2 separate regions of the Homo sapiens genome follow, and region 1 is linked to region 2. The links come from fine-mapping of genetic effects on gene expression. A gene starts in region 2. The other region holds a variant in brackets. All regions are shown on one strand. Distances are from middle to middle.

What was found. PIP is the estimated chance that this variant, and not a neighbour inherited with it, causes the effect.
Region 1: its variant is the best candidate, but not a certain one, in a credible set for the expression of CCDC150 in NK cells (Schmiedel 2018, PIP 0.77).

What each region holds. Positions count from the first base shown.
Region 1 is chr2:196,969,367-196,985,214 of GRCh38, reverse strand. It overlaps a transcript of ANKRD44 not described here. Among named protein-coding and RNA genes, the nearest start is that of PGAP1, 51 kb to the right of the region's middle. The variant A/G (reference allele first, on the strand shown) is at 8,881.
Region 2 is chr2:196,629,859-196,645,706 of GRCh38, reverse strand. CCDC150 (coiled-coil domain containing 150) reads right to left here and starts at 5,992. Exons shown (of 28, transcript NM_001080539.2): 1 at 5,929-5,992. The coding sequence starts at 5,940. LOC105373823 (a long non-coding RNA gene) reads left to right here and starts at 6,022. Exons shown (of 2, transcript XR_923747.3): 1 at 6,022-6,311; 2 at 7,140-7,279. RefSeq lists enhancers at 5,131-5,668, 5,669-6,206, 6,191-6,240, 6,261-6,480.

The DNA.
Region 1 (15,848 bases), 340 kb before region 2:
TTCTAAGTTCACTCATATGGTTGTTGGCAGGATTCTTCTCATGGGTTGTTACACTGAGGGCCTCAGTTCCTTGATGGCTGTTGGCTGCCGTCCGTTCCTTGCCAGATGGGCCTTCCCATAGGGAAGCTCACAACATGGCAGCTTGCCTTGCGGGCGAGCAGGCTGAGAAAAGCCAGGGAGACAAAGAGCAAGACAGAGTCACAGATTTTTGCAACTGAATTTCAGAAGTGATATTTCATCATTTTTCTCATATTCTATTCATGAGAAGCAAGTTACTAAGTCCAATCTATACTCAAGGGCAAGGGATTCCCCAAGGGTGTGAACAGCAGGAACAGCAATTACTAGGAGCCATTTTTGGAAGCTACTCGCCACCCTGGTCTATCACGGTGTCCTTTGAGGCTGTAACATCATACTAATACACCTTCTTCCCAGTCATTGCTAAGGAAATTGCTTGCTTGACTGACTGAACTCACCCTTTCAAGGAAAATGTAGAGATCCCTAATTTTAATTGTGTTCTCATAAGCAGAGAAATGTGATAATGGCCTCCACTGTGGTAATTATATTTTTGAACATTGATGTGGCACTTTGTCTTCAAACTGCTTGTCAAAGGTTCCTTCACGCTAATTCCATTTGGTAGGTTTAGATCCCTGTATAAGTATCCCTCACTTAACACACTTAATGTGTTCCAGAATTAGTTTGCAAAGCACAAAAGCATTAAGCTAAAAGGCTATTAACATAAAAACATTGTGGGTAAAAGTACTATATGAATTGTCTCTTTAGCAAATTTCATCCTGAAGGTACATTTGCTGTAAAATATAAAGCACCAAGATAATGGCTGTGCCATTCATTAATTCTCAGGCACTCTAGGGAGTGATTGGAAATGTGTGGGCATTTGTAGTTGGCACAATGGCTGGGGGGTGGGCAGGGCTGCTACTAGAGTATTTATAGTTCCAAGCGCCAGGGAGACCAAATGTGCCACTCAACCCAGGGAATAACTGCGCCACTTAGAATGTCAATGCTCCTCTACCCCACTGCTCACCTATTTGCCTTTCTCTTGTTTCTGAATCATTTCTTCATCAATGTATTGCTTATGACACTAGCCATATTGCCTCATCTATTTTCACAAGGGATTGCATAAACATACTTTATATGCCCTCAGAACGAGAACTTACAAGGTTGAGAAAGAACTTTGGAAGGCAATGCTGAGCACATGTGCCCTGGTTATGTATTTTTCCAGGGGAGAAGATTTGCACAGATCAAGGCATCTTTAATTCCTTTGTTATCAAACCAAAATGTGGCCATACACATGTATATTTCTTGTCTTAAGCAAGAGGTGATTGTATCTACTTTCCCAGTGGGGGGAACTCCTGCTCACAAAGGTGGGGCACTTGGCCCACCGTCACATGGCAAGCTCTGACAACACAGTACTTCAGCCTCACAGGGTTCTCTAGGCACTGGTGGACACAATTTCTAGGATACTATTTTCTGCTTTTAAATGTCAATTTAATGAAGTACTGTGTATTACATTCTGGAAGAATTTTATAATTTTCAAAAGTAAAAATACTGAAGCAGTACTTTTAGAGCACAAAAAGCTTACCTGTGTTTGCATTGAGTTGAAAGTACCCAGCAAATTCGTGAACTTTATTTATATTTTTTATAGTTGGGGTTCCTAAGAATTACTAACATTTAAACTCAGATCCTAACCACAAGAAATTACCAGCTATGCAAAGATCAGAGGAGAGAACATTCTAGGGAGAGGAAAAGGCTAGTGCCAATACCCAAAGGCAGGAATGAGTTTGTTATGTTCTAGGAACAGAAATGGGGCCAGTGTGGCTGGAGACTCAAGGGAAAGGGAGGGTGGCAGAAGATTAACAGCGATCTCAGCCCAGACATAAAATTTTGTGAGCTGGGAGGAGTTTCTATATTTTTCTGAATGTGACAAAAGCCACTGGAGAAATGTAAGCAGAAAAATGGCTGTGGTCTGATTTTTTTTTTCTGTCATTTTTATTTTTTATTTTTTATTTTTATTTTAAGTTCTGGGGTACATGTGCAGAACATACAGAATTGTTACATAGGTATACATGTGCCATGGTGGTATGCTGCACCTATCAACCCGTCATCTAGGTTTTAGGCCCCGCATGCATTAGGTATTTGTCCTAATGCTCTCCCTCCCCTTACCCCAACCCACCAACAGGCCCTGGTGTGTGATATACCCCTCCCTGTGTCCATGTGTTCCCATTGTTCAACTCCCACTTATGAGTGAGAACATGTGGTGTTTGATTTTCTGTTCCTGTGTTAGTTTGCTGAGAATGATGGCTTCTAGCTTCATCCATGTCCCTGTAAATGACATGAACTCATTCTTTTTTATGGCTGCATAGTATTCTATGGTGTATATGTGCCACATTTTCTTTATCCAGTGATTTCATTTTTAAAAGATCACTCTGGCTGCTGTTGAGAGACAAGAGAGAGAAACCCTAGTGACCAATTAGGTAGCCACTGCAATAGCCTAGACAAGTAAATATAGTGGCTTGGATTGTCTGGCAACAAGGGAAATGAAGAGACTGTGACACATTTTGGATATGTCTTGAAGGTAGAGTTGACTGAATTTGCTGATGGCTTGAGTCAAGTAAACAGTAGAGTTTGGGGAAGAAGCCAGGGCTGGGATCATATGAAATTGTAGACATGTGAAAGTTGATTTGGAGTCATTCCTGTCCTACCCAATGAAAATGGAGTCAAGGAGCCTTTGTTGGGAAAGAGCACTCTGGTCACAAACGTCTTCCAAAAACTGTCTCGCAAGTTTACTCCAAGGAAACAGCCTGCTATGACTTCAAGGCGAACTTTACCTAGCAGTTGCTGCCACCTGCCAATCAGAGCTCACCAGCGCCCACTCTGCTATCGCCAATTAACTTTCTTTGAAAACAACTTACATCTTCTTTCTCCTTTCCCAATAAAACTCCAGCCCTTTCCTTTGTTCTTTGGACACACTGGAAACTGCCCTGGTCTCTGTGTGCATGTCCTTATTGCAAGCCTACTTTCTGTATATTACTCTCAAATAAAATCCTCTTGCTTAGAGATTTGTCTCTGCATATATATATATATATATATAATTTTTTTTAGTATTGACAAATGAGAAGAGATTCCCTCAGGAATAAATGATAGAAGAGCCCTGAACTGTGCACACTCCAGCATTTAGAGGTTAGGAAGGGGAGGAGGAGGATCTAGCAGCGAAGACAAGACATAATGGTCAGAGGCAGGAGGAAAACCAAGAGACCAAGATGTCCCTGAAACCTGGGAAATAAAGGGTCATAGAAGAAGGAGTGTCAGTGATTTCTATTGTCTCAATTGCTTCTGGGAAGTCAAATGCAGAGAAGTTGACCAATGGATTTGGCAAGATAGAGTTCATTTATGTATTTATTTTATTATTATTATTATTTTGAGATGGAGTTTCACTCTTGTTGCCCAGGCTGGAGTACAATGGTGCGATCTCAGCTCACTGCAACCTCCACCTCCAGGGTCAAGCGATTCTCCTGCCTCAGCCTCTCAAGTAGCTGGGACTACAGGCACACACCACCACACTTGGCGGATTTTTAAAAAAATTTTTAGTAGAGATGGGGTTTTGCCATGTTAGCCAGGCTGGTCTCGAACTCCCAACCTCAGGTGATCCACCTGCCTCAGCCTCCCACACTGCTGGGATTATAGGTGTGGGCCACCACGCCCAGCCTGGAGAGAACATTTTAGAGTAACAGAGGAGGGTTACTGAGTAGGATTTAGTACACTCAAGATTTATAATCATAAATCTAAAATGATACCAGTCATCCTGGTGGATTTTTTCATCAGATGTTTGGGTGTAGGCATAGAGTAAGAAGACAGTGGAATTTAACCTGGTATAGAGCTTTGCTAGGTAAGTCCAAAGGGAGAGAGGGTTATGGAACTGTGGTGCTTTTAATGGATGTGATTATGTAGATCATGGATTCTAAACTGGGTAAGGAAGAAAGTGAAAACATGAGGGAGGTGATGGATACTGAAAAAGTGGTAGTCAATGGGGGTCAGGATAAGACAGAATTATTGAATTGTAGCCCCAGAGTTGGTGATCTTGATGTGGAGTGCCCAAAGTAAAGATTTCACAGGTGGTATAGTTTTGAGGATGACAAAGCAAAGGATATAACCATGGGAGTGGGTGGTTGAGAATGACTGAAGAAAAAAAAGCATTGGATGTGAAGAAGTAAAAATCTGAGGAGGCCAACATGACAAATAGGAAAAGCTATTTATCATAGAATTGAAGCAAAATAAATGAGAACATTTAACTACTTCAAAACATCTATTATTCAGGTATTTTACTTTAAGTAGATGGATACTAAGAGCTGATTTACTGTCAGGCTGAAATTCGGTTCCAGGATTAGGATGAAGCTTTTAACAAAGTAAAAATGGTCAAGTGCATTTCTATTAAAAAACTAACCAAACCTTGGCTATGACAGAATGACAGGTTTTATGACCATATGGTTTAACCTAAATGTGTTTATGAGGCTCTCCAGAAAACATGACAGATGGCAAAGAGCTGCAGAATGAACAAAAGGAGAGTGTGGTTCAGACAACGTCTTAGTGATAACAATGAAAAATTGAATACTTCCCAGCGGGCCTTCTGCAGAGGACAAAAGACTGAAATTATTGGAATTCTATATTGCTGTTTAGGTGAAAATTAAATTTGCTTTAAAACATTAACTTTTCCTGAAAAATCTCAATTTTAAACTAAATAAATAGAAAGCTAACGGGTTTCTAATTCCCTTTTGAATTTCTTTTTTTCAGAAATGATTTATCCATTCCATGTTTTATTTCACATTCTTCTTCAGGCCTGAAATTTACTCCTTACTGTTTTATTATTACTTAAAACTTGTAAAAAATTTTGTTAGGAGAATGTTACCTGGTAATTTATTGATTTTCTGCTTAACTTCATTCACAAGGGTCTACCCATTAGCATGTAAATTTTGATTAGGCTGCTGAGCCCATTTCCTTTTGGCATCAGTGCTAAAAATGATGATAAAGGGCTCGGTTGGTGCCATCTGGGTGCTTGCATTGTGATGTTACAGCTAACACTAGAAATTAGATTGAGAAAACCAATTAATTTACTGCAATGTCATTCAGATATTGAAAAAGAAAAGCCTTTCAGAGTGCTAACAATAGTTCCTAGAGATAAGAACATATTTTCTAGTGTATATTAATGATCATTTTCCTTGCCGCCAGCCTGGTGATCTGAGAGTGTCCTGGATGGTGTGGAGCAGGGGACAGTGTTGCTAAGATGCTGGTTGTGACAAAAACCTTTAAAAACCTTTAAACTGCAAATAAAAATCACCTTATTGGCCGGGCACGGTGGCTCATGCCTGTAATCCCAGCACTTTGGGAGGCCTAGGTGGGCAGATCACCTGAGGTTGGGAGTTCGAGACCAGCCTGACCAACATGGAGAAACCCTGTCTCTACTAAAAATACAAAATTAGCCGGGTGTGGTGGCACATGCCTGTAATCCCAGCTACTCGGGAGGCTGAGGCAGGAGAATCACTTGAATTGGGAGGCAGAGTTTGTGGTGAGCCGAGATTGCATCACTGCACTCCAGCCTGGGCAACAAGAGCCAAACTCTGTCTTAAAAAAAAAAAAAAAAAAAAAAAAAAGTCATCTTATTAAATTACTCAGGCTGCTTTTTAATTGGGGTGAATAGTAAAAATAGCTGATGCTCACTGAGTGCTTACAATGTGCCAAGCACTGTTCTGAGTGCTTTACATCCTTAAAACAACCCTAGAAAGTAGATGCTATTCATTCTTTTTTTTTTTTTTTTTTTTTTTTGAGACGGAGTCTCGCTCTGTCGCCTAGGCTGGAGTGCAGTGGCGCGATCTTGGCTCACTGCAAGCTCCGCCTCCCGGGTTCACGCCATTCTCCTGCCTCAGCCTCCCGAGTAGCTGGGACTACAGGTGGCTAATTTTTTAAAATATTTTTAGTAGAGACGGGGTTTCACCGTGTTAGCCAGGATGGTCTCAATCTCCTGACCTCGTGATCCGCCCGCCTCGGCCTCCCAAAGTGCTGGGATTACAGGCGTGAGCCACCGTGCCTGGCGCCTGCAGATGCTATTCATTCTTACATCTACTCTAGAAGGTAGATATTATTATTATCTCAAGAACTCATGGCTAATTAGTGCCAGATCTAGGATTCAAATCTAGTCAAGTGGCTCCAGAATTAATAATCTTTACGACTATGCTATATCTATTTTGGAAAGAAAACAAAATGCTTGATGTTACTATTATTTTCTTTTTTGTCGCCTTTTTTTTTTTTAAAACAATATCGGATGGCCTTTCTTCAGGGTCTGTAAATATTGGTTACAACAGAGAGTTGGTAAACTATGGCCCATGGTTCAAAATCAGCAGCCATTAAAAAAGAAAAAAAAAAGCTCCATTGAGATATAATTGACATAACATAAAATTCGCTCTTTTAAAGGATACACGTTGATGGTTTTTAGTGATTTTAAAAAGTTATGTAACCATCACTACTATCTAATTTCAGAATATATTCATCACCCCAGAAAGAAAAACTGTCCCCATTAACAGTCATTCTCTATTCTCTCTCTCTCCCCATCCCCTGGCAACCAATAATTACTTTCTGTTTCTATGAATTTGCCAATTCTAGACATTTCATGTAAATGAAATAATACACTATGTGGCTCTTTGTGACTGGCTTCTAAGCAGAATGTTTTCAGGGTTCATACATGTCTTAATATATGTGTTAGTCTCTTCTTGCATTGCTATAAAGGAATACCTGAGATTGGGTAATTTATAAAGAAAAGTGGTTTATTTTGGCTCATGATTCTGCAGGCTGTACAGGAAGCATGGTGCTGGCAGCTGCTTCTGGTGAGGGCCTCAGGAAGCTTCCAATCATGGTGGAAGGTGAAGGGGGAGCAGGAGAGAGAGGGGAGAGGTGCCACACTCTTTTAAACAAGCAGGTCTCCTGTGAACTCAGAGCAAGAACACACTCATTATTTTAAGGACAGCACCAAGCCATTTATGAGGGATCTGCCTCCATGACCCAAACACCTCCCACCAGGCCCCCCTCTAACATTGGGGATTATAGTAATATTGCAACATGAGATTTGGAGGGAACAAACATCCAAACTGTATCAGCATATAGAGGTGCTTCATTTCCTTTTATAGTCAAATAATATTTAATTATATGGATATACCACATTTTGTTTATTCATTCATCAGTTGGTGGACATTTGGGTTTTGTTTTTGTTTTTTTACTTTTGAGCGATCATGAATAACTCTGCTATAAACATTTGTGTACAGACTTTTTTATGGACATATGTTTTGATTTCTTGTGTATATACCTAGGAGTGGAATTGTGTATATATCTAGGAGTGGAAATGGTAACTCTATGTTTATCATTTTGAGGACCTGCCAAACTGTTCCGCAGAGGCTGCCAAACATTCCCATCAGCAATGTATAAGAGTTCCAATTTCTCTACCTCCTTGCCAGTACTTCTTATTCCTCATTTATTTTTATTATGGCCATCCTAGTAGATGTGAAGTGATATCTCATTGTGGTTTTCACTTGCACTTTCCTGCTGACTAATGATGTCAAGCACCTTTCTGTGTGCTTATTGGACATTTGTATATTTTCTTTGGACAAATGTATGTTCAAATCCTTTGCCCATTTTTAAATCACGTTGTGTTTTTATTGGTGAATTATAAGCATTATTTATATATTCTGAATACAAGTCCCTTATCAGATACAGGATTTGCAAATATTTTCTCCCATTCCATGGGTCGTTTTTTCCTTTTCTCGACAGTATCCTTTGAGGCACAGAAGTCATATTTTTGGTGTCATATCTAGAAAACCACTGTCTACTTCAAAGTCATGAAGATTTACTCCTATGTTTTCTTTTAAGAATTTTATAGATTTAGCTCTTATACTTAGAATCTGTAGATCAATTTGGGAAGTATTGCCATTTTAACAGTATTAGGTTTTCTGGTCCATGAACATGGGATGTCTCTCCATTTATTTTAAGTCTTTCTTTCAACAGTGCTTTCTAGTTTTCAGTATACAAGTTTTGCACTTATTTTGTTAAATTCATTCCTAAATATTTTATTCTGTTTGATGTTGTTGTTAAGGGAATTGTTTTCTTAATTTTATTTTCAGATTGTTCATTGCCAGTATATAGAAGTACAATTGTTTTTTAAAAATTGATCGTTTATCCTGCAACCTTGCTGAGCTTGTGAACACTAATAGTTTTTCAGTGGAAAAACTATTCCTTAGAGCCCTCCCTCCCTCCCTCTCTTCTTTCCTGCCTTCCTTCCTTCCTTCCTTCTTTTGAGACAAGATCTCACTCTGCTGTCCAGGCTGGAGTGCAGTGGCATGATCATGGCTCACTTTAGCCTCGACTTCCTGGGCTCAGGTGATCCTTCTGGCTTCAGCCACCCAAGTAGCTGGGACTACAGGCGTGCACCACCACGCCCTGCTAATTTTTGTATTTTTTTGTGGCGATAGGGTTTTGTCATGTTGTGCAGGCTGATCTTAACTCCTGGGCTCAAGCAATCCACCTGTCTTGGCCTCCCAAAGTGCTGGGATTACAGGCATGAGCCACTGCACCCAGCTGGATTCCTTAAAATTTTCTACATGTAAGAAAAATTTTCTACATGTCATCTGCAAATAGGGATAGTTTTACTTCTTTTCCAATCTGTATAGGATGATTACTTTTATAGCTTTTATTACTTTTTTTGACTAATTTCCCTGGCTAGAACCTCCACTATAATGTTGAATAGATGTGGTGTGAGTGACATTCTTACCCTGTTCCTGATCTTAGGGGGAAAGAATCCAGTCTCCCACTATTAAATATAATTTTGGC[A/G]AAACCCAGTCTCTACTAAAAATACAAAAAATTAGCCAGGCGTGGTGGCTGGTGCCTGTAGTCCCAGCTACTCGGGAGGCTGAGGCAGGAGAATTGCTTGAACCTGGGAGGCGGAGGTTACAGTAAGCCAAGATTGCGCCACTGCACTGCACTCCAACCTGGGCGACAGAGCGAGACTCCATCTCAATATATATATAATATATTTTGTTTACCATGGGTTTTTCACAAATGTCCCTGATCAGTTTGAAGAAATTTTTTCTATTTCTAGTTTCTCGAGTGTTTTTATTAAGAAAAGGGGTTCAATTATATGTTCAGTCAGCTGGTATACATAGGATAAATCCTACTTGATCATGGTGTATAATAATTTTTATATGTTGTTGGATTCTATATGCTAATATTTTGTTGAGGACTTTTGTAACTATATTCATAAGGGATATCAATTTCTTTTCTTGATGTGTCTTTCTTTCTCTTTTCTTTCTTTCCTTCTTTCCTTCTTTCTTTCTTTCTTTCTTTCTTTCTTTCTTTTTTCTTTTTCTTTTTTTTTTTTGAGACAGAGACTAGCTCTGTCACCCAGGCTGGAGTGCAGTTGCACAATCTCGGCTCCCTGCAACCTCCAGCTCCCAGGTTCAAGCAGTCATGTCTTAGCCTCCTGAGTAGCTGGGATTACAGGTGTGTGCCACCACACCTGGCTAATTTTTGTATTTTTTTTAAAAAAAAAAAACAGTGTGACACCGTGCTGGCTAGGCTGGTTTTGAACTCCTGGCCTCACGTGATCCACCTACCTCGGCCTCCCGAAGTGCTGGGATCACAGGCGTGAGCCACCGCACCCAGCCCCTTTTGACGTATTTTTCTTGTTTTGGTGTGATGGTAACGCTGGCCTCAAAGAATAAGTTCAGAAATGTTCCTTCCTCTTCTATTTTGAAAAAGATTTTTATCATTCTGATTCTGTTTGAAAGTTGATAGAATTTACCAGTGAAGTCATCTGGTGTTGGGATTTTCTTTGTGGGTTTTTTTGTTTGTTTTTATTGCTAACTCAATTTCTTTACTTGTTAGAGATCTATTATCTATTTCTTCTTGAGTCAGTTTCAGCAATTTGTGTCTTTCTAAGAATTTGTCTATTCACACAGATGATCTAATTTGTTGTACTATACAATTTTTCATAGTATTCCCTAATCCTTTATGTTGCTGTAAGGTTAGTAGTAATGTCCCCTCTTTCATTTCTGATTTGACTAATTTGAGTCTTTTCTCCTTTTCTTCTTTAGTCGTGGTAGAAGTTTGTCACTTTTGCTGATTTTTCAAAGAACCAACTTGTGTTAATTTTCTCTATTGTTTTTCTGTTCTCTATTTCATTTATTTTTGTTATTTGTAATTAATCTTTATTATTTTATTTCTTCTGCTTACTTTGGGTATAGTTTACTCTTCGTTTTCTTTTTCTTTTTTTTTTTGAGATGGAGTCTCACTCTGTCACCTAGGCTGGATTGCAGTGGCATGACCTCAGCTCACTGCAACCTCTGCCTCCTGGATTTAAGAGATTCTCCTGCCTCAGCCTCCCAAGTAGCTGGGCTTACAAGTGTGTGTCACCATGCCCAGCTAATTTTTGTATTGTTAGTAGAGACAGGGTTTCAACATGTTGGCCAGGCTGCTCTCAAACTCCTGACCTCAGGTGATCTGCCTGCCTTGGCCTACCAAAGTGCTGGGATTACAGGCATGAGCCACGGCACCTGTCCTCCTTTTTTATTTTCTTAAGGTTGTTAGGTTATTGAATCTTAATATAAAATATTCTTTTTAAATATAGGTGTTTACAGCTATAAATTTTCCTCCTAGCATTGCTTTAGTTACATCCCAGATGTTTTGGTATATTGCATTTTCATTTTCATTGTTCTCAAAATATTTTCCAATTTCCTTTGTAACTTCTTCTTTGACTCACTGGTCATTAAGGAATATGTTGTTTTGGCCAGGCTCAGTGGCTCATACCTGTAATCCCAGCACTTTGGGAGGCTGAGGCAGGCAGATCACTTGAGCTCAGGAGTTCAAGACCAACCTAGGCAACATGGCAAAACCCCGTCTCTACAAAAAACACAGAAATTAGTCAGGCATGGTGGTGCACCCCTGTAGTCCCAGCTACTCAGGAGGCTGAGCAGGGAGGATTGCTTAAGCCTCGGAGATAGAGGCTGCAGTGAGCCATGATCATGCCACTGCACTCTAGCCTGGGCAACAGAGCAAGAGGCTGTCTCAAAAAAAAAAAAGAGTATGAGAGTATGTTGTTTAATTTCCACATATTTGTGAAATTCCCAAATTTCCATCTCGTACTGATTTCTACTTTCATTCCATATGGCAAGAGAATATACTTTGTATGATTTCAATACTTTAAAGTTTATCAAGGCTTATTTCAATGTCAACTTAAGAAAGGGCTTCACAGATAACATAAAAGTCTAATAACCATGGTGGGTCTCAGTGTAGAGATGTATGTTTAACGTCATGAAACTCAGTGGAGACTAGTTTAATAAATTATGGCAATAGAATGCAATAGGAAATCATGGAAGTTTTAAAAGGAATGATATGGTCTGTATATAAAGATATGTTATTAAGTAAACAAATAAGAATAGACAGTGAGTATAGTTTGCTGCCATTTGTGAATATAAACAAGCATGAGAGGGGGATACACATATAGAGAGAATATTCCCTTATAGGCAATAAGGAAACTGTTACCAGTGTTTCCTCTAGTGAGAAGAACTGGGAAAACCAGGGTTAGGGATGAAAAGGAGACTTATTTTCACTGAATATCCTTTGATGTTGTTCAAAGATTTTTTTAAATCTCCGGTTCATGTGCATCCTTTGCGTGGGGAGATACTGTAAGCAGAAGTAATAAATTAAAAGATTGATATATTTGATTATATAAAAATGTGAAATTTTGGATGGTAATATCATCATAAGCAAAGTTAAAGTCAAATGATAGAAAGGGAAATATTTTTAATAAAAATGATAGTTTAAAGTTTAATATCTATAATATATTAAGAGATTGTATAAAGTGATAGGAAAAACACAGAAAACACAATTTTAAAAATAGGAAAAGGATATAAATTAATACTTTACAGAAAAAGAAATCTAAATATTCAAAAAGTATATTTTATAATCTCAACATCAATGATAGTCAGGGAAATCCAAATCAAAGATAATGGCATACTATTTTTCACCCAAAATATTGAAAACAGTGATAATAAATGGTGCTGGCTGAAAAACAGGAACTCTCCTACAGTGGTAGTGGGTATAGGAATTGCTCCAATGGGGGTAATACTTTATTTCATCAAATCTAAGATAGCAATTGAAGGATGCACCTTTATTTTATCTAAGGAAGAAAAACACTGCCAATTAAACTATGACACAATGCTTTCTGCTCTTTAATTATAAGATGCATCCCAATTTCAGGGATGCTAAATGTGAATGATAAAATCTGGTAAGATTTCAATATCCATTAACATTAGAATTATACATACCCTTTCAACAAGCACTCATACTTTAGGGAATCTATGCTGGAGAAAGAGAAATAAGCAAGGTGATATTTAAGATATTTAACAACTAGTATGATGCAGATACCTACCAATCAGAAAAAAATCCTAATCAAAAGAGACACCGACTAGTAGGCCTGCCCCTAACATTCTCAAGTCCTGGGCAGGCTACAAATATAGACTTGCATATCAGCTATTATATACTTAAACTTTGCTGTAAATTCAAGCTAAAAATCTGTTAAATCAAATATGTTCTATCACCATATTTTGACAAACATCCCTTCATGACAACCTGCAAGAACTATTCAAATTTAAAATTATTGCCCTGGCCAGGCATGGTGGCTAACACCTATAATCCCAGCACTTCGGGAGGACAAGGTGGGTGGGTCACATGAGGCCAGGAGTTCGAGACCAGCCTGGCCAACATAAGGAAATCCTCTCTACTAAAAATACAAAAATTAACCGGGCGTGGTGGCACACGCTTGTAGTCCCAGCTGCTCAGGTGGCTGAGGCATGCGAATTGCTTGAACCTGGGAGGTGGAGGTTGCAGTGAGCTGAGATTGCACTACCATACTCCAGCCTGGGTAACAAAGCGAGATCCTGTCTCAAAAAATAATATAAAATAAAATTATTGCCCTTCTCTGACCATGGTAGCACTGGGAAGGTAGCCTCCCATCTTCAACCTGTGGCTCATGACTCACCCTCATTGTCTTCCTACTCCTATCCTCCTCCCTCACTGAGAGGAGTCTTGCATGTAGTCATACAAACCCCCAGCCTGCATGACCAAGCTCTGTCTGTACCCTCAAACACTCCTTGGCTACACTTGAGGCCTAGAGGTGTTTGCAGTGGTGGCGCAGGCTTCCCTCAAGAGGACAGAGCTGGGATAGAGATCCATGCAAGCCTGTAAGTGGGCTCAGGACCTCTGAGTAGGCTATTTCATCATCTTGGGTATAAAACTAGTCAAAAAGGGGGTCACAGACTACAATTGGATGCATCCCCTTTGGCTCACAGACTCCTTGCCCCATGGGGAGAGCCTGAACTGGAGGAGGGCCAGGGCAATTGTCTTCTAGCAGGGGGCCCAGGTCTAAGAGTTTTACTAGCAGGGGGCCCAGGTCTAAGAGTTTTACTGCTAGCCAGTATCCTCTTCTGGTATGTATGAGTTAAATATTACTCCTTTAGAAAAGTAGAGACACGCATGCCAAAATGTTTATTGCATTTTTTGGTAGTAGAAAAAACTCAAGAAAATCTTAATGTAATTCTAGTATATCCCTACTATGAAAAAAAATGCAGCTGTTAAAAATAATTAATGTGGGGCATGGTGGCACATGCCGGTACTCCCAGCTACTCAGGAGACTAAGGCACGAGAATCACTTGAACCCAGGAGGGGAAGGTTGCAGTGAGCCGAGATCGCACCACTGCACTCCAGCCTGGGTGAGAGACTGAGACTCGTCTCAAACAAATAATAATAATAAAAATAATAATAAATGTGGTTAAGAAATATCAAGTATGGTTTGAAAAAGCAAGTTGCAGTTAAATGTTTATGGTTGTAATCTCAAATGATATCAATGAAAAATTCACATATTGTTTATAGGTGTCATTTTGTATGATCACAAGCAAAGTTATGTCAGGACCTACTCTATAATGTTATAGGAAGAAAGTATAAGGAATGGTAAAGTTGTAGTTAAAGGGAAGATGTGCATGACATAATGTTAAGTGAAAATATAAAATGTAGAATTAAAATTGGTTTATATGCAAAAAAAATATGCAAACATTGAATATGCCTATGGACAAGGGCTATAAGATAACATAGAAAAAATTAAAATATTGGCCAGTCGTGGTGGCTTATGCCTGTAATCCTAGGACTTTGGGAGGCCGAGGCGGGAGGATCACTTGAGCCCAGGCATTTGAGACAAGTGTGAGCAACATGGCAAAACCCCGTCTCTACAAAGAATACAAAAAATTAGCCAGGTGTGGTGGCATATGCCTGTAGTCCCAGCTACCCAGGAGGCTGAGGTGAGAGGACCACTTGAGACCAGGAGGTAGAGGCTGCAGTGAGCCCTGATCACACCACTGCACTCCAGCCTGGGCAACAGAGTGAGACCATGTCTCAAAAAGAAATATTGATTTAATCAAGTGACAGAATCTCAGGCAATTTTTGTTCTGAATTTATGCTGGTTGTTTTTGCAATAAAGATTTTTTTAAGAGACTGGAATGCATAAATAAGGATTGGGGGGGTGGGTAAGTCAATCATTCTACTTAATGCTATGTTAATACTGTTCAGTAGAACCAGTTCTAAGCTCCATAGCTAAAGAGTAATGAAGAAAACTTGGAGATGCTCCAATAAGAGCCATCAAAATATTAAGAATTTAAGAATACACAGTTTTAGGAAGAGTAAAAGGAACTGAACTCAAACAGCTTAAAGCTTCCTTCAACTGTAAAACACGGAGATTTGACTCAGTAATTTCTCATATCCTTCCAGCTCTAACATTTTTTTTGTTCTGAGACTAGATCCGTTAGTCAACAGAGAAACTGCCAACTACCCACAGCATCTGAAACAGTGAACTCAGCATATGAAGATGCTGAGGAATAACCATGGTTGAAGGCTGACTGCATCTTAGTCCTTCCATCATAAGAAGAATTTCTTCCAGACAGAAGAGGTTAAGGAGATGTGCCCATTCTCCTCTGAGCAAGAGAGTAAACGGGCTTTAACCGCAGCATGACAAATTTAGGATCATGGAAAGTTATCTGAAAAAATGTAGTAAATGTAGAGTTAACACAAGACTGATTTTAAAGTCCCCCTATCTCCACTTTAAAATTTTGAAGTCCCTATTAGGGGGATCTTAAAATTACTGAGTCAAATCTCCATGTTTTACAGTTGAAGAAACCTTTAAGCTAAGTTCAGTTCCTTTTATTGTTCCTAAAAGGATATATTCTTAAATTCTTAATATTTTGATGGTTCTTATTGGAGCACCTCCAGATTTTCTTCATTACTCCTTAGCTGCGGAGCTTAGAGCTGGTTCTGAACACTATTAACGTAGCATTAAATAGAATGATTGATTTACCTCCCAATCCTTATTTATGCATTCCAATGTCTTAAAATAAATATTTATTGCAAAAACAACCAACATAAATTCAGAACTAAAATTGCCCATGATTCTGTCATTTGATTAAATCTACCATTAGCCATGTAGATGGTATATCACTAGCAATGTAGATGCCACTAGCAATGTAGCTGGTATATCACTTTCTGTTGTAATTATGTGATTACATCTGTGTGATAGAGATAAAATGTTCTGTGCCAATGCTCCTCATCCCCTACCTCCTTCCTGCCACATACCAAACGACAGTTTGTTTGTCAAATTCTGGATTTTTTTTTTCTGGAGTGGAAGAATAAAAAGTGGTATAAAAACAGGAATGAAAATGAAGAAGAAAAATGCAAGGGTCTGGTGAAAGCAGCCAAAT
Region 2 (15,848 bases):
ACATCAACTTTCCACAGACTCCTCCCCCAAAACGCAATGAAAATAAATAAGAATAGTGAGAATACTTTCAAGATATTAGTGACAGAAGCAGAATTAGCTTATATGTGGTCACAACGTGTAAATGAATCACGTTCAATGACAAGGTAATTGGTGAAAACTTTAAAAACATTGTCCTGCAACTCCGTTCTCTGCAGACATTTCTCTACTAATCATGCTGTAAGCCTTAGCCATTTCTAGCGATAGTGTTCGTATGGGAATGTGTTCACAAGGGTCCAACTTGGGATATCAGGAATACACCTTTGTACCCACTTCCTATGTCATCAGGTATCTCCCTGACCCTTACCTTCCTGGAAGTGAAAGGGGGGTCCACCTCATGTTCAAGTTGCTGAAGGTGGTCCTGGGACCCAGGGCAAGAATTCATGAAGTGGGAGGACTGGTGGCAGGATTTAAGGGAGCAAGAATCATGGTGGGGCTGAGCTTGCTATACCCGCTGAGGATGTTTCTTCATCCTGAAATAGCTCTCCAATTCACTTTGTATCTTCTTCCCACAGGTTCCAGAAAATGGCCTATTTTTTTCTTTTTCGAGGCAGAGTCTTGCTCTGTCACCTAAGCTGGACTGAAATGGAGCGATCTTGGCTCACTGCAACCTCCACCTCCTAAGTTCAAGCAATCCTCCCACCTCAGCCTCTCGGGTAGCTGAGATTACAGTTATGTGCCACCATGCCCGGCTAATTTTTTTTTTTTTTGTATTTTTAGTAGAGACGGGGTTTCACCATGTTGGCCAGGCTGGTCTCAAACTCCTGACCTCAAGTGATCTGCCAGCCTCAGTCTCCCAAAGTGCTGGCATTACAGGCATGAGCCATCACGCCCAGCCTATTTTTCTTTTTACTCTTACTATGGTGTTTCTGACCAGAATTTTTCTTTCATGCCCTACTGTGAAACTTTTTTTGACACAAGCTTTTTGCATTCTTTAGATTTGTTGTTAAGTCAGCTTAAGGACATGGGGTGAAAGAAGCTCCCTTCTATTAATTAACTTTCATTTTTTTCAGTTCATTCCTGAAGGAAAGACAAAGACATGCAGATATTGATGCAGTCTCTGGACACGCAAAATATTCGAAGTGGGGCTCCTCTACATTTCTGGGAAAAAAAAAACTGATGTGGAGACTCCTGGTAATGTTACCACATGAGCCAGTATAGTATTCCTCAAGTAGTAAACGAAAGAGCCTCTGAGTAAGCCCGTCGGGCTGGATCAGCTGCCATAAACCAGGGCTGCAGTTGGTGGAGCCACCAACAGCACTGGGTGGGGAAAAAATGGAGGGGTAACAATGGAGAAACACCTCCATTCTATTTTCTGTCACCTGCTGTCCAGCTACTGACCTAGAGATAAATCATGCCAAAGATGGGGAGAAAACCTAGGGAAAGGGTGGCTAATAGGGTGTGCGCAGACACAGCTCCTTTGTCCTCTCTCCAAAAGAAGCAGAAAAGCTCATGACCCCAGCCTCGCCTCAGCAGGCACACTCATGTGATATATTCTGGCCAAAGAGACTTTGGGCAGAAGTTTGCAAAAGGGCTCCTAGGCAGACTTTTGTTTTTCTAGATTAAAAAAAGAGTAATGATGGCACCTGTCTTTTCCTACCCCCTTACAATTCCCAGAGCGTTCCATCAGTCAGGTATGCAGCAGCTCACTCTCAAATATAAACGAAGAGCCAAGGATCACCAGTGTCTGATAAACACAAGGAAAAGACAGAGAACCTCAGACTATGTTGACACTTGGGCAAAACCAGTAATCTTCAAACTCTGCTTATGTGAGATAAAAAACTTTTTTTTGTTTGTTTTAGTCACTTTCTTCTACATATAGTAGGCCCAGGCATTAGCTGGTGGAAAAACAAGTAGAAGGAAGAAGTAAAAATGACAAGCAGTGCTGGAGAGGGGAAGGGAGAACAATTTCTGTGGCAATTTATTAGACCCAGGTAGCTGGTTATAATATAGAGTCTTGTCTATGTTCATTTATATCAGAAGCCAAGCACATAATACTAATACTCATATTGCAAAAGTCTGTCTTTGGAAAAAAATGGAAATGGAGAAGCTCCCCCACATATTTTGAATAGGATGCAGATTCCCAACTAAAATTTTTTCATGTAATTGTTCAAATGTTTAGTTTTGTTGATATTTCCCTAAGGAACCTATGATCTGTATTAAATGCTTACATTGGCTCTCCAGGACATGTGTACATTCAGCCATGAAAACAAAACAGCAAATCATTTAAATTGCTTCACTTGTTTTAAAAAAAAGAAGGTCCAACATGTCGCGGTAGGAATTTGGTTTGCATCCACACTGAGTGCCACCCGACCCTGCTCTACACTGAAGCTTCTCAGGCTTCCATAGAGAAAATATACTTTCAAAAAGGAGCAACCAACTTGGCCCAGCCTCTGAGGGGAAGGAGGTTTATAGAAAATTCACCCTAAGAAGGGGGAGATTGAGGTGACTCGGACACTGATTGATGGTTGGCAGGGCACAAAGCTTTTGAGTGAAATACATGGTGTTGTCCTTAAAATATCCTCTTAGTCAATCGCTGAGAATCCTGTTCAGGTCATCAAAGTTGCTGAAACAAAAATTAAATAAGCCAATCTAGCCTTTGGGGATTTACTAAAAACAGATCTCATGGCCAGGCACAGTGGCTCATGCCTGTAGTCCCAGCATTTTTGAAAGGCCTATGTGGGAGGATCACTTGAGGCCAGGAGTTCCAGACCAGCCTGGCCCACATGGCAGGACCCTATTCTCTTCCAAAAATTTTTAAAAATGAGCTGGGCATGGTGGCCTGTGCCTGTAGCCCTAGCTACTTGGGAGGCTGACGCAGGAGGATCACTTGAGCCCAGGAGGTAGAGGCTGCAGTGAGCTATGATTGTGCCACTGCACCCCAGCCTGGGTGACAAAGCAAGACCTTGTCTCTAAAAAAAAATAAAAAATGAAAACAAGTCTCAGGGTTAGTTAAAAACCTTCCCTCCCAACCACCACCTCCACTTCCCGCCATGGGAAAACAAAAACAAAAACCAAACAATGCCAAGGTCAGGAGAGTCCTTGGAAGCAAGGGAGGGGGCGGTAATGGCTGAGTAGCAAGAGGACAGCCTTAAAGCCACCAGGCAGAGTCCCCGAGTATCTGGGAGGCTGTTAAAGTATGAGATAAGAACTTTCAATCCAGTAAATTAATCTACCAAGTTGGGGCTTAAAGTTAGAGAGAGATTCTCATTTTCACTGCAGTTGCTCATACCCTTGCCTGTCCTCCCCATCTGGTAGGCCCAAAGCAGTGGTAGCAGAAATGCCACCCACACCCCTACATACATAAATACACGCACACTCTCCAATGGCCACTTGGCAGATCCTCATAAGTCATAGTTCTATGGCTCATAGTCTAAGAAGCACAGTCTTACATGAAAACAATCTACCTCTAATGGCTGACATTCTAGCAAAGAGACAACAGCTTTAACATATCTGTGCTTTGTTGTGTTTGAAAAGGAGCAAATATTGATTGCTGCCTTGAACCTAAGTCCTAACGCTTGATAGTAACAATAATAAAAATACTGAGATATAAACTTTTATTTTTAAAAAAGTTCATTCATAACTAATTTCTATGCATATATTATTATCAAACTAACAGAATTCTGTCTTGATGTTTAGGGAGAATATTTCCAAAGAGCTTCTAGGCAGGTAACCTTATGGAAAGCATGGCAAGAAAAAGACCAATGTCACAAGTAATATACTAGTAAAAACCAGATGACTTTGAAAAGAGAACACATGCTTCTGTGGACACAGGCTCCATTCCTACACCTGGCAATAGGTGTACACTGGCAAAAGCGTATACAAGTACATGCTGTTGGTTCCAAAATAACAGTCCAGGGAGTCAATGTTGTTTATCACAACCACTAGAAAATAATATGGTAACACTGTCTTCATTCACTCACACATCTAACAAATATTTCCTGAACATTTACCATGAGCCACACACTGTTATAGGCAATGAGGCGGGGGGCAGGGGTTGGGTAGAACAGTACGAACAAAACTCCCTGCCTTCGTGGAGCTTATATTCCAGCTGAAGAAGACAGACACTAAGTAAAATACATAGTTTGTTTATTGGTGATAAGTGCAAAGGAGGAAAATGAAATAGGAAAGAACATGGTATGGAGGCTACAGGGCAGATTTTCATTTTAAACAGGGTGGTCAAAGAAGGCCTCATAACATTTGAGCAAAGACCTGTTATATAGATATCAGAGGGCAGAAAGGCCCAGAAGACGGAAACAGCAAGTGCAAAGGCCTGAAGTTAGAAGGTCTGATGAGTCCGCACATAATAAAGAGGTGGGTTTGGCTGGAGAGGAAGGAGTAACACAGAGAACATTGAGAGATGAGGTCAGACGGTAATAATAAAACCAGAATACGGCTGGGCGCGGTGGCTCACGCCTGTAATCCCAGCACTTTGGAAGGCCGAGGCGGGCAGATCAAGAGGTCAGGAGATCGAGACCATCCTGGCTAACACGGCGAAACCCCGTCTCACTAAAAATACAAAAATAAAAATAAAAAAAAAATTAGCCGGGCGTGGTGGCGTGCTCCTGTAGTTTCAGCTACTCGGATGGCTGAGGCAGGAGAATGGTGTGAACCCAGGAGGCGGAGCTTGCAGTGAGCTGAGACTGCTGCACTCCAGCCTGGGCGACAGAGCGAGACTCCGTTTCAAAAAAACAAAAAACAGAATACACAGAGCCTTGAAGGCCATTGTAGAAGTCTGGCTTTTGCTGTCAGTGATTCTCAGAGTCACTGGAGGTCTATAGCTGAGGAATGCTATCCAACTTTCCTTTTAACTGGATCATTTTGACTCCCTCCCACTCCAAATGGTGGAAGAACAAAAGCAGAAGTAGAGATGCTGCTGGCCAGAACCAAGGTGACAGCAGCGGTATTCCTACTGTAAGAAGTGGTTAGTGGTTAGATATACTTGAAAGATAGCTTTTGCTGATGCATTAGATATGAGATATGAGGGAAAGGAAGAAGCCAAGATTACTACAGGGTTTTTGGCCTGGATGGTGCTATCACTGAGACAATGCAAACTTATTAAGGAAGAATCCGTTTTGTGGAAAAGATAAAGAGTAGTTTTTAAAATGTCAAATTTAAAACATGAAAGATACCAAATACATTATTGAATTTGTGGATCTGAAGTTTGGGGGTGAGGTGTGGACTGGAGACTAATTTCTGAAGAGCTCAAGAAAACCATAAGGCGGGATAACAGAGAACACAAAGGATTAAAGGACCTAGTCCTGAGCACGCCAAGATTAACAAATTAGAAGCATGTGTTGGGGGGCATTTAAGACGGACTAATACGAACTTCTCTAAAGTGGGGTTAAAAATAGACATTTTTCTATCTTTAGAGCCTAATACAGTGCCTGGGAAATTATAGGTGGTAAATAAACAGGAGAATACTTCGACAGGAATTTAACGAATGTCTATTCCGTTCTAGCAAGAGCGCCAGGTACTGCGGAAACCGTAAAGAACAAGTGCAAATTCCTGACACCTATATTCTGGTAAGCAAGCCAGGGAGGATTAACTGGTGGCAAAAATCAAACATTAACGCCGAAATAGCCTTCCCAGGAACCTATTAAACTCCAACTTAACACATAAATAAAGGTGGTATTGGGCTTATCTGGAGGCTTCGGTGGCTATCTCCCATCCCTCAGCTGGAGCCAGGCCAATGCAAACTTCGCTCCTAAATGGCTTTCACCGGCAGCCAACGCCAAAGCGCCTTAAATCAGGGCCCTGAGGTCCAGGGAGTGAGACTGGACTCCGTCAGGACAGGGAGAGGGCGCCAGGGAGTGGTGACTGTCCTTATCTGAGCCGAAGCCTCGCGAGCCTCCGACCACCCCTCACCAGCCCGGGGCCCGGCAGCCTCACCTTACAGTCCATCTGTCCGCCTGAGGCTCCGTACTGCAGCAGGCGAGCGGGTTTCCGTGGAACTAACACAGCATTTTAAACCAACCCGCTCCCCGGCGCAGTAGCTCCGGTACGCAGGCGCACCCGTGGCAGGGCATGTCGGGAACTGTAGTTTTCCCGGCCCAGGAGGGCCCTCAGCCCTGGGCGGGACCCAGGCCGGCATCCGGCGGCGCTCAGGGAATGCGTAGCGCCGTGAACCGAATGGCGGCAGGCTCCACTGTGCTCGCGAGCGGGGCACGCCGGGATATGTAGTTTCCGGCGCCTGCCCTCCGGGGGGTCCTGTGCTGCCCACTTCACAGTGACTTGTCTCCGCCTGGTGAACTCGCGGTGTTCTGCTAATCTTGGTAAATACATACCCTACAGCAGAGTAACGAGCATAAAAATTGGTTAAAAATTCAGAGCTTAAACATTCTTCTCGTTAAAGGAAAAATCAAGTCCCTCTTCGTCCTCGTCCATGATGGCCACATGGAGAGTAAAACACAGAAATCTGTTTTCAGGTCTTTCGTCTCTTCAGCATAAATTATTTCTTGCCCTGTCTACAAGTTAATAGGTATTTGTAAATCTGAGTGTAAGTAGCTATGAAACGGAAAAGAGCATTGAGCTGTCCCTGGTTTTTTTGGTGGTTTGCTTTTTTGAGATAGGGTCTTCCTCTGTCGCCAAGGGTGGATTACGGTGGTGCGATCTCGACTCACTGCAGCCTCGACCTCCCGAGCTCAAGCGATCCTCCCATCTCAGCCTCCCCAGTATCTGGGACCACAGGCGCGCGCCACCACGTCTGGCTAATTTTTGTATTTTTTCGTGGAGGCGGGGTCATCACCATATTGCTCAGGCTGGTCTCTTTGGGCTCGAGCCATCCGCCCACCTCGGCCTCCCAAAGTCCTGGGATTACAGGCGTGCATCACCACACCAGCGTTTCTGAGTTGTTTTGCTTTAAGAATATGTATTCTCACTTAAGGGAAAGCCTTCTATAGTGCAAAGACGCGGCTTTGCGTTTTGGTAGCTGGACAGAACACCTGTTATCCCTGCCAGGGCAATTAAAATGCATTTCTCTCTTCTCCCTGAGAGTGCAGCCAAGAATCACTTCAGCCCTCTCATATAAGCAATCAGATCCGAGATGAGAGCTCATTTACTTAGCCTGACAATTGATCTTGCTATTCTAATTCTTTTCATAGCGGAGCCTCAATGTGAGATGCAGAGACTGCCCATCAAACCACAGCCATATTCATCAAGCTTTGAGCCGATCCGGTGAAGAGAAATGAGCACTGCATACATTATTCAGAGAAAGGGACCAAATAAAGCTTTTAATAGGAAATGAAAATGTATTTTAAAGCGTCAGTGCAAACAGCCAATTATTTTCATTATGTATGTTTTATCTTGCAATGACCTCTGGTTTATCAGTGGAATTAAGAGATGAGTGATACATGTATCCACGTGTTTTTGTGTAATGAGAGTTTTCACCTTCTCCTCAAATCTCCATATTAAGCAGCAGTCAGGGAACCAAACTGATTAAATTCGTGTTTTTCATTTGTTTTCCCTTATTCACTGTCTGGCAAACCGTATAAGAACTTAAGCAATTACAGAGTTAGAGAAAAGGACCTGAAGTCTTCAATAAACTTGAAATCAGGGAGTATAGTCCTCCAACTTTGTCCTTTTTCAAATTTGTTTTGGCTGTTCCTTTAACTTTCTAGTTCCTTTACCTTTCTCCCAAATTTTTTGAATCAACTTGTTGATACCTACAAAAATTCTGCCAGGATTTTGATTGAAATAATGCCAAACATACCGATTTTCTTGCTGATTTCCCTCTTGATTTTCAGTTGATAAATAGTTCTCAGACATTACCCCATTTATCAAACAAGATCATTTCATTCACGGAAATCCTAGATATTCCATGAAGACCACATTCTGTTTCACTGCGATAACCTCCTAACTGGTTTTCCTATTACCCCTTCCAAAGTATCCTTCATATGGCTACCAGATCTTTTAAAAAAGTAAATCTGATTATCTCAGGTCTTTGCTTAAAAACATTTAATCGTTCCCCCATTGAACGAAAAGTTTTCCATTGAGCAGGATGAAGACCAAACTGGTAATAGCTTCAGCCAAACCCTCCAGCCTACTCTGCACCTAGTGCCCCAGTGGAACTCTGAAGTCAAGCCTGCTACCATAGAATGTCTTTGTGCTTGCAGGTTATGCTCACTCTGCTGCGCACGGCCTTCCTCTTGTCAGTCTCACCAGCTCAACAGAAACTTAGCCTCTTCTGTGAAGCCATTCTATTCTCTCCCAAAGCACTTCATAATTGTCAATGTATCTTATTTCCCCTTATTTGAGCTGTAAGCTACTTAAGGACAGGAATTTGTTTTTTTCTTTTCAACACCAAGTACAATGCCCGGCACACAGTAGGGGTTTGGAAAGTTTTTGTTAGGTGAGTGAATGAATAAATTTTGAAACGGCTCTACTAATAGAGGCTGTGTTTCACTCTCTACTTGTAAGCCAGGAAAAGGCCTCCAAATAGAATATACGCTGCAGATGATTTGACATTGTAGTTACACGAATGGCAGTAAAGTTCCCTGCAACTACTTCCCCTTGGAGTTGGAAATGTATTCCGTGGACAAAGAAATGCAAACAGAACACCCAAAGTTTTCATATCTTGTTGGTAAAATAAAAGAATAAAAATGGCAAATTCACTAACTGGCTCCTCACCTTATGTGGGCAATCCAGATATTTTGGTAAAGTATTGGCTCTGGGTATAGAGATTAGGATTTGAAAGAGTCTTTGGCTTTTTAATGAACTGGTGAATCAGCCCAAGGCTGAGAAGATAATTCTTTTTTTTTTTTGAGACGGAGTCTCACTCTGTCGCCCAGGCTGGAGTGCAGTGGCTTGATCTCTGCTCACTGCAAGCTCTGCCTCCTGGGTTCACACCATTCTCCTGCCTCAGCTGGGACCACAGGTGCCCGCCACCACGCCCCACTAATTTTTTTGTATTTTTAGTAGAGACGGGGTTTCATCACGTTAGCCAGGATGGTCTCGATCTCTGGACCTCGTGATCCGCCCACTTCGCGTCTCCCAAAGTGCTGGGATTACAGGCGTGAGCCACCGCGCCCGGCCACGGCTGAGAAGATAATTCTATTAATTGAAATGGCCAAGGATAACAGTGCTTCTTATACGGTCTCTGTCACTTAGCTCCACCAACTAAATTTTATAGTCAGGTAGATTTTCACCTTGTTCCATTAACCAAACTTATGAATAAGGTCAAGGCTATGATGACACTGCTGCAGCTCTATTTTACCTTTCCTAAGATTAAAGTACTCTTTTGTACTTTATCATATCACCACATGATTCTGACTGTAACCTTTGGTGTAGTAGTTATATTCTCATTTTACTTATGAAGTAACTGACACCGGGGGAAGTTAAGTAACTTGCCTAAAGGCCATACAGCCAATAAGTGACAGAATGGTTATTTGGAGTTGGCTCTATCTCGCTTCAAAGCTTATGCATTTTGGTTAGACTCCATCTCCTACCATTCTCCACCCCATCTGACAGCAGTGGGGTAAGACAGAATTTTCAGCATCTAACTATTCAATGAGAAATATATGAATTAACTTCACACAATCAAATACCATGTTTATCAAAGAAAATAAGGAAATCCAGGTGGTGGTATGTGAGTATTTACTATGCCATTCTTACAAATTTTCTGTGTGTCTAAAATTATTTTCACAATAAAAATTTTTTTATGAGGAAAATGTCTATGTACTTATATGGAAAATTCTATAGGATATATTTTAAGTTGAACAAGTGAGGTATTGTGTAATGCCAGGGGGGATAAGAATTTTATATTTGTATAAATAAGCACTGGGAATATACAAAAGAAATAAAAGTACCTTTTATTACCTGTGTAGATAGTGTGACCATATAATTTTTCATCCAAACCAAGATAATGTATCTCTCCACATATCTAAGGTCTTCTTTGGTTTCTTTAATTAGTATCTTATAGTTTTCAATATATAGATACTATATTTTTTTTAGATTTGTGTTTAAGTTTTCCACTTTTTGTTACTAGTTTTTTTTTTAAATTTCAAATCCATTGTTTGTTGCTAGTACATAGAAATATAATTGACTTTTGTATTTTGAGCTCTTATCCTATGACCTTGCTAAACTCTCTTACTAGTTTTAGGACTAGCTTTAGAATTTTTTTCGTGTGTTATTTGGGATTTTTTTACATAAACAATTCTGACATCTGCAAATAGAGTTTTTTCTTTCCCTTTCAATCTGAATGACTTTGTTTTTCTTGCCTTGTTGCACTGGCTAAAACTTTTACTATGATATTGAATAGCAGTGGTGAAAGAAGGATGTCCTTATCTTGTTCCCATTAAGTATGATGTTAGTCATCGGTTTTTACAGTTGTCCTTAATCATATCCAGGCAATTTCCTTTCATTTCTAGTCTGCTGAGAGTTTTTTTGGAAAGAAATTTGAATTTGTCAAATGCCATTTAGATAATCATGGTTTTTTTCTTTAGTTTGGTAATCTGGTAAATTACATTGGTTGAGTTTTCCCACATTGAAACAATCTTGCATTCTTTGGATAAATCCCACTTAATCATTCTGTATTTTCCTTTTTTATATATTTCTAGACCCAATTTAATAATAATTTGTTGAGTATTCTTGTGTCTGTGTTTGTGGGGGATATTGGTCTTTCTTTTTCTTTTTTTTGGAAACAGAGTCTCACTCTGTCACCCAGGCTGGAGTGCAATGGTGTGCTCTCAGCTCACTGCAACCTCTACCTCCTAGACTCAAGCAATTACTGGGCCTCAGCCTCCCAAGTAGCTTGGACTACAGGCACTCACCACCACACCTAGCTAATTTTTGTATTTTTAGAAGAGAAAGGGTTTCACCATGTTGGCCAGTCTTGTTTCAAACTCTGGGCCTCAAGTGATCTGCCCGCCTCAGCCTCCCAAAGTGCTGGGATTATAGGCATGAGCCACCGCACCTGGCCTGGTCTTTATTTTTCTTTCATTATACTGGTTTTGCTATTAGGGTAATGCTAGCTTCATAAGATGCATGGGGAAGTGTTTCCTTCTCTTATAAATTCAGAAAAAGATTGTATAGAATTGTTATTGTTTCTTCCTTAAATGTTTTCTAGAATTTTGCAGTAAAATATATGGGCAGGGAATTTTCTTTTTTGAAAAGTTTTTAACCACAAATTCAATTTATTTAATAGTTGTAGAACTATTTTTTTTTTTTTTTTTTAGTGAGTGTAGGTAGCTTGTGTATTTTAATAATTGGTCTGTTTTATCTAAGTTGTTGGATTTATGGGCATACAGTTGTTTTTAGGACAGTAAGTCCTTAACATCCTCAGTACGTTCTTGGAAATGGCAACCTTAATTGAAAGTTTAAGGAAACCACTTTTATTATAGCCTAATTGATATAAATGACAGTTAGGTGCCTATGACATACTTCTGGTCACAAAAACATCACCAAATTTCTAAATAAAGACCAAAACACTTCTAATATTAAATATTGAAATAAATGAGAGCTATACATACATTTAAGACAGATTAATAGGCCAGGCACGGTGGCTCACGCCTGTAATCCCAGCACTTTGGGAGGTCAAGGTGGGTGGATCACCCGAGGTCAGGAGTCCAAGACCAGCCTGGCCAACATGGTGAAACCCCGTCTCTATTGAAAATACAAAAATGCCGGGCGTGGTGGCACGTGCCTGAAGTCCCAGCGACTGGGGAGGCTGAAGCATGAGAACTGCTTGAACCTGGTAGGCGGAGGTTGCAGTGAGCCAAGATTGAGCCACTACACTCCAGTCTGGACGATAGAGTGAGACGCGGTCTCAGAAAAAAAAAAAAAAGATTAATAAAAACAAGTAGGATAATTATTTACCCAGTTATCCCAGTTCAAGGTTGTGGGTGGCCAGAGCTTTTACCCAGTTATCCTAGTTCAGGGTTGTGGGTGGCCAGAGTCTATCCCCGCAGCTCAGGACACAGGGCAGGAACCAGCCCGAGGCAGGATGCCACCCTATCTCAGGGCACACACACACACACACACAAACATGCACACACATACACAATCAGTTACACGGGGACCATTTAGCTCAGCAGTTTACGTCACATGCACATCTTTGGGATTTGGGAGGAAACTGCAGTAACCAGAGAAAACCCGCAGACACGGGGAGGACATGCAAACTCTACGCAGTGTGCCATTAATCAATTTTTTTGTTAACCTCATCAAAGTTGAATGAAATGACACACTTTGAGGACTTCCTGTATTCGTTTTATCATTTTAATTTCTGTGGGGGTCTGTCATGATAGCCCCTCTTTTATTTCCAATATTGGTAATTTTTGTCTTCTCCCTTTTTTTCTTTGTCAGTCTGGCTAGAAGTTTATCAATTTTATTGATGTTTTAGAAGAATCTGTTTTGGTTTCATTAATTTTTTTCTATTACTTTTGTTTTCAAGTTCATTGATTTTTTTCCTCTCATGTTTATTAGTTAAACTTTTGAGAGTAAATGGGGGCACTATTAATAATTAAACCAAGAAAAAAGGCATAAACTGGAAATGTTCTTGGGAAACCACAATGTATGATCACTCCGCCTATAGGATATGTGACGGGGAGAAGAGAAGCAGATGGGAACCTTTGTGGGAATAAAACTTTACAGTGTATACCTTTTAGGATTACTTTGATTTAAAATCACTTGGAGTTTTTCCCCAGCTTTATTGAGACATGGTTGACAAATAAAAATTGGATATATTTTAAATATACAACATGATGTTTTGCTATATGTATGATATATGTATACATAGTGAAATGATTACCACAATCAAACTAATTAACATATCAATCATCTAACATAATTACCTTTATTTTATTTAATTTATTTATTTATTTATTTTGAGACGGAGTCTCGCTCTGTCGCTCAGGCTGGAGTGCAGTGGCGCCATCTTGGCTCACTGAAAGCTCCACATCCCAGGTTCACGCCATTCTCCTGCCTCAGCCTCCCGAGTAGCTGGGACTACAGGGGCCTGCCACCACGCCCAGCTAATTTTTTTTTGTATTTTTAGTAGAGATGGAGTTTCACCCTGTTAGCCAGGATGTTCTCCATCTCCTGACCTCGTGATCCGCCCGCCTCAGCCTCCCAAAGTGCTGGGATTACAGATGTGAGCCACTGCACCCGGCCTACCTTTTATTTTTTTAATGACAATACTTGAGATCTACTCTTTTAGCAACTTTCAAGTGTACATTATTATTAACTACAGCTATCTGATATGGTTTGGCTCTGTGTCCCCACACAAATCTCATGTTGAACTGTAGTCCCCAGTGTTGGAGGTGGAGCCTGGTGGGAGGTGATTGGATCATGCGGGTGGTTTCTAATGGTTTAGACTATCCCCTTAATGCTGCCTCATGATACAGTTCTTAGGACATCTGGTTGTTCAAAGTGTATGGCACCTTTCCCTTTGCTGTCTCTCCTGCTCTGCCAGGTGAAGATGTGCCTGCTTCCCCTTCAACTTCTGCCATGATTGTAAGTTTCCTGAGGTCTCCCCAGCCATGCTTCCTGTACAGCCTGTGGAACTGTGAATCAATTAAACCTCTTTTCTTCATAAATTACCCAGTCTCATGTGGTTTCTTATAGCAATGTGAGAATGGACTCATATACCATCATGCTGTACATTGGGTCTCCAGTACTTATTTACCTTATGGCTGAAGGTTTGTATCCCCAATATCTTCTTTTGTCCCCTTCTCCACAGTCTCTGGTAACAACCATTCTATTCTCTGCTCTGTGAGTTCCATTTTCTTTAAATTCCACATATACATTAGATCATGCAGTTTTGTCTTTCTGTGTTTGGTTTCTGTCACTTAGCATAATGTCTCCAAGTTTAATTCACGTTGTTGAAAATGGCAAGATTTACTTAGTTTTTAAGGCTTGATAATATTCCATTATATATGTATACCACATTTTCTTTATCCATTCATCTGTTGACAGACACTTAGGTTGTTTCCACATCTTGGCTGTTGTGAATAATGCTGCAATGAACATGGGAGTGCAGATACCTCTTTGACATACTGATTTCAATTTCTTTAGATACATACCCAGAAGTGAGATTTCTGGATCACATGGTGATTCTATTTTTAATTTAGTTGAGAAACTTCTATGCTGTTTTCCATAACAACTGTACCAATTTACATTCTCACAAAAAATGTCTAAAAGTTCCCTTTTCTCCACATCCTTGCCAACACTTGTTATCTTTTGACGTTTTGGTAATAACCATCCTAACAAGTGTGAGGTGATAGCTCAGTGTGAGGGGATATCTCAGTTTAATTTGCATTTTTTTGATGATTAGTGAGGTTGAGCATCTTTTCATATAGTTGTTGGACATTGTATGTCTTCTTAGGGGAAAGTGTCTATTCAGGTCCTTTGCCCATTTTTAAATTGGGTTATTTAGGGTTTTTTTTTTTTTTTGCTATCGAGTTTTATGAGTTCCTTACATATTTTGAATATCAACTCATTGTTGGATATGTGGTTTACAAATATTTGCCACCAGTTCATAAGCTGCCTTTTAATTTTGTTGGTTGTTTTCTTTGTTATGCAAAAACTTTTCAGTTTGATACTGTACAGTAGGTACATTTAGTTTTATTACTGTACATTGCTCATTTCTGTTTTTGTTGCCTGTCCTTTTGGTATCAAATCTGAAAAACTATTGCTGAGATCAATGTTGTGAAGTTTTCCTTTATGTTTTTTTCTAGGACTTTTATAGTTTCAGGTCTTATGTTTCGGTCATTAATCCCTTTTAAATTGATTTTTGTGTATGGCATAAGAGAAGAGTTCAATTTAATTATTTATCTATTTGTTTGCTTTTCTTTCTTTCTTTCTGCATGTGGATATCCAGTTTACCAGAACCATTTATTGAAGAATCTATTTTTTTCCCTTTGCGTATTCTTGTCACCTTTGTTGAAAATTAGTAGACCAAATATGTATGGGTTTATTTCTTGGCTGTCTATTCTCTTCCACTGGTCTATGTGTTTGTTTTTAATGCCAGTACCATACTGTTTTGATTACTACAGCTTTGCAACATAGTTTGAAAGATGTCTTCAGCTTTGTTCTTCTTATTCAAGATGGTTTTCTCTGTTTGGGGTCTTTTGTGGTTTCATATAAATTTTAGGATTGTTGTTTTTTTTTTTCTATTTCTGTGAAAAATGCCGCTGTAATTTTAGTAGAGATTACATTGAATCTAGAGATCACATTGGGCAGTATGGACATTTTAATAATGTTAACTCTTCCAATAGATGAACACAGGATATCTATTTCTTTGTGTCTTCTTCAATTTCTTACATCAATATTTTAGAGTTTTTGTTGTATAGATCTTTCACCTCCTTGGTTAAATTGATTCCTAATTATTTTATTTTTTATGCTATTGTAAAATGGATCATTTTCTTAGTTTCTTTTTCAGATAGTTCACTGTTAGTGTAGAAAAACATAACTGATTTTTGTAGGCTGATTTTGTATCTCACAATTTACCGAATTTATTAGCCTTATCATTTGTTTAATGAAGTCTTTAGAATTTTCTACATATATAAGATCATACCATCTGAAAACAGAAGCAATTTCACATTTTTCTTTCTGATTTAGATGCCTTTTATTTATTTTTCTTTCCTAACTGCTTTGGCTAGAACTTGCAACACTTTGTTGAATAGAAGTGGTGAGAAGGGGCATTCTTGTCTTCTTTGTAATCTTAGAGGAAAAACTTTCAACTTTTCAGTTTTGAGTATGATGTTAGCTGTAGGCTTGTCATACATGGCCTTTATTATGTTAAGGGATGTTTTTGCTATAGCTAATTGGTGAGAGTTTTTGTTATAAAAGGATGTTCAATTTTGTCAAATGTTTTT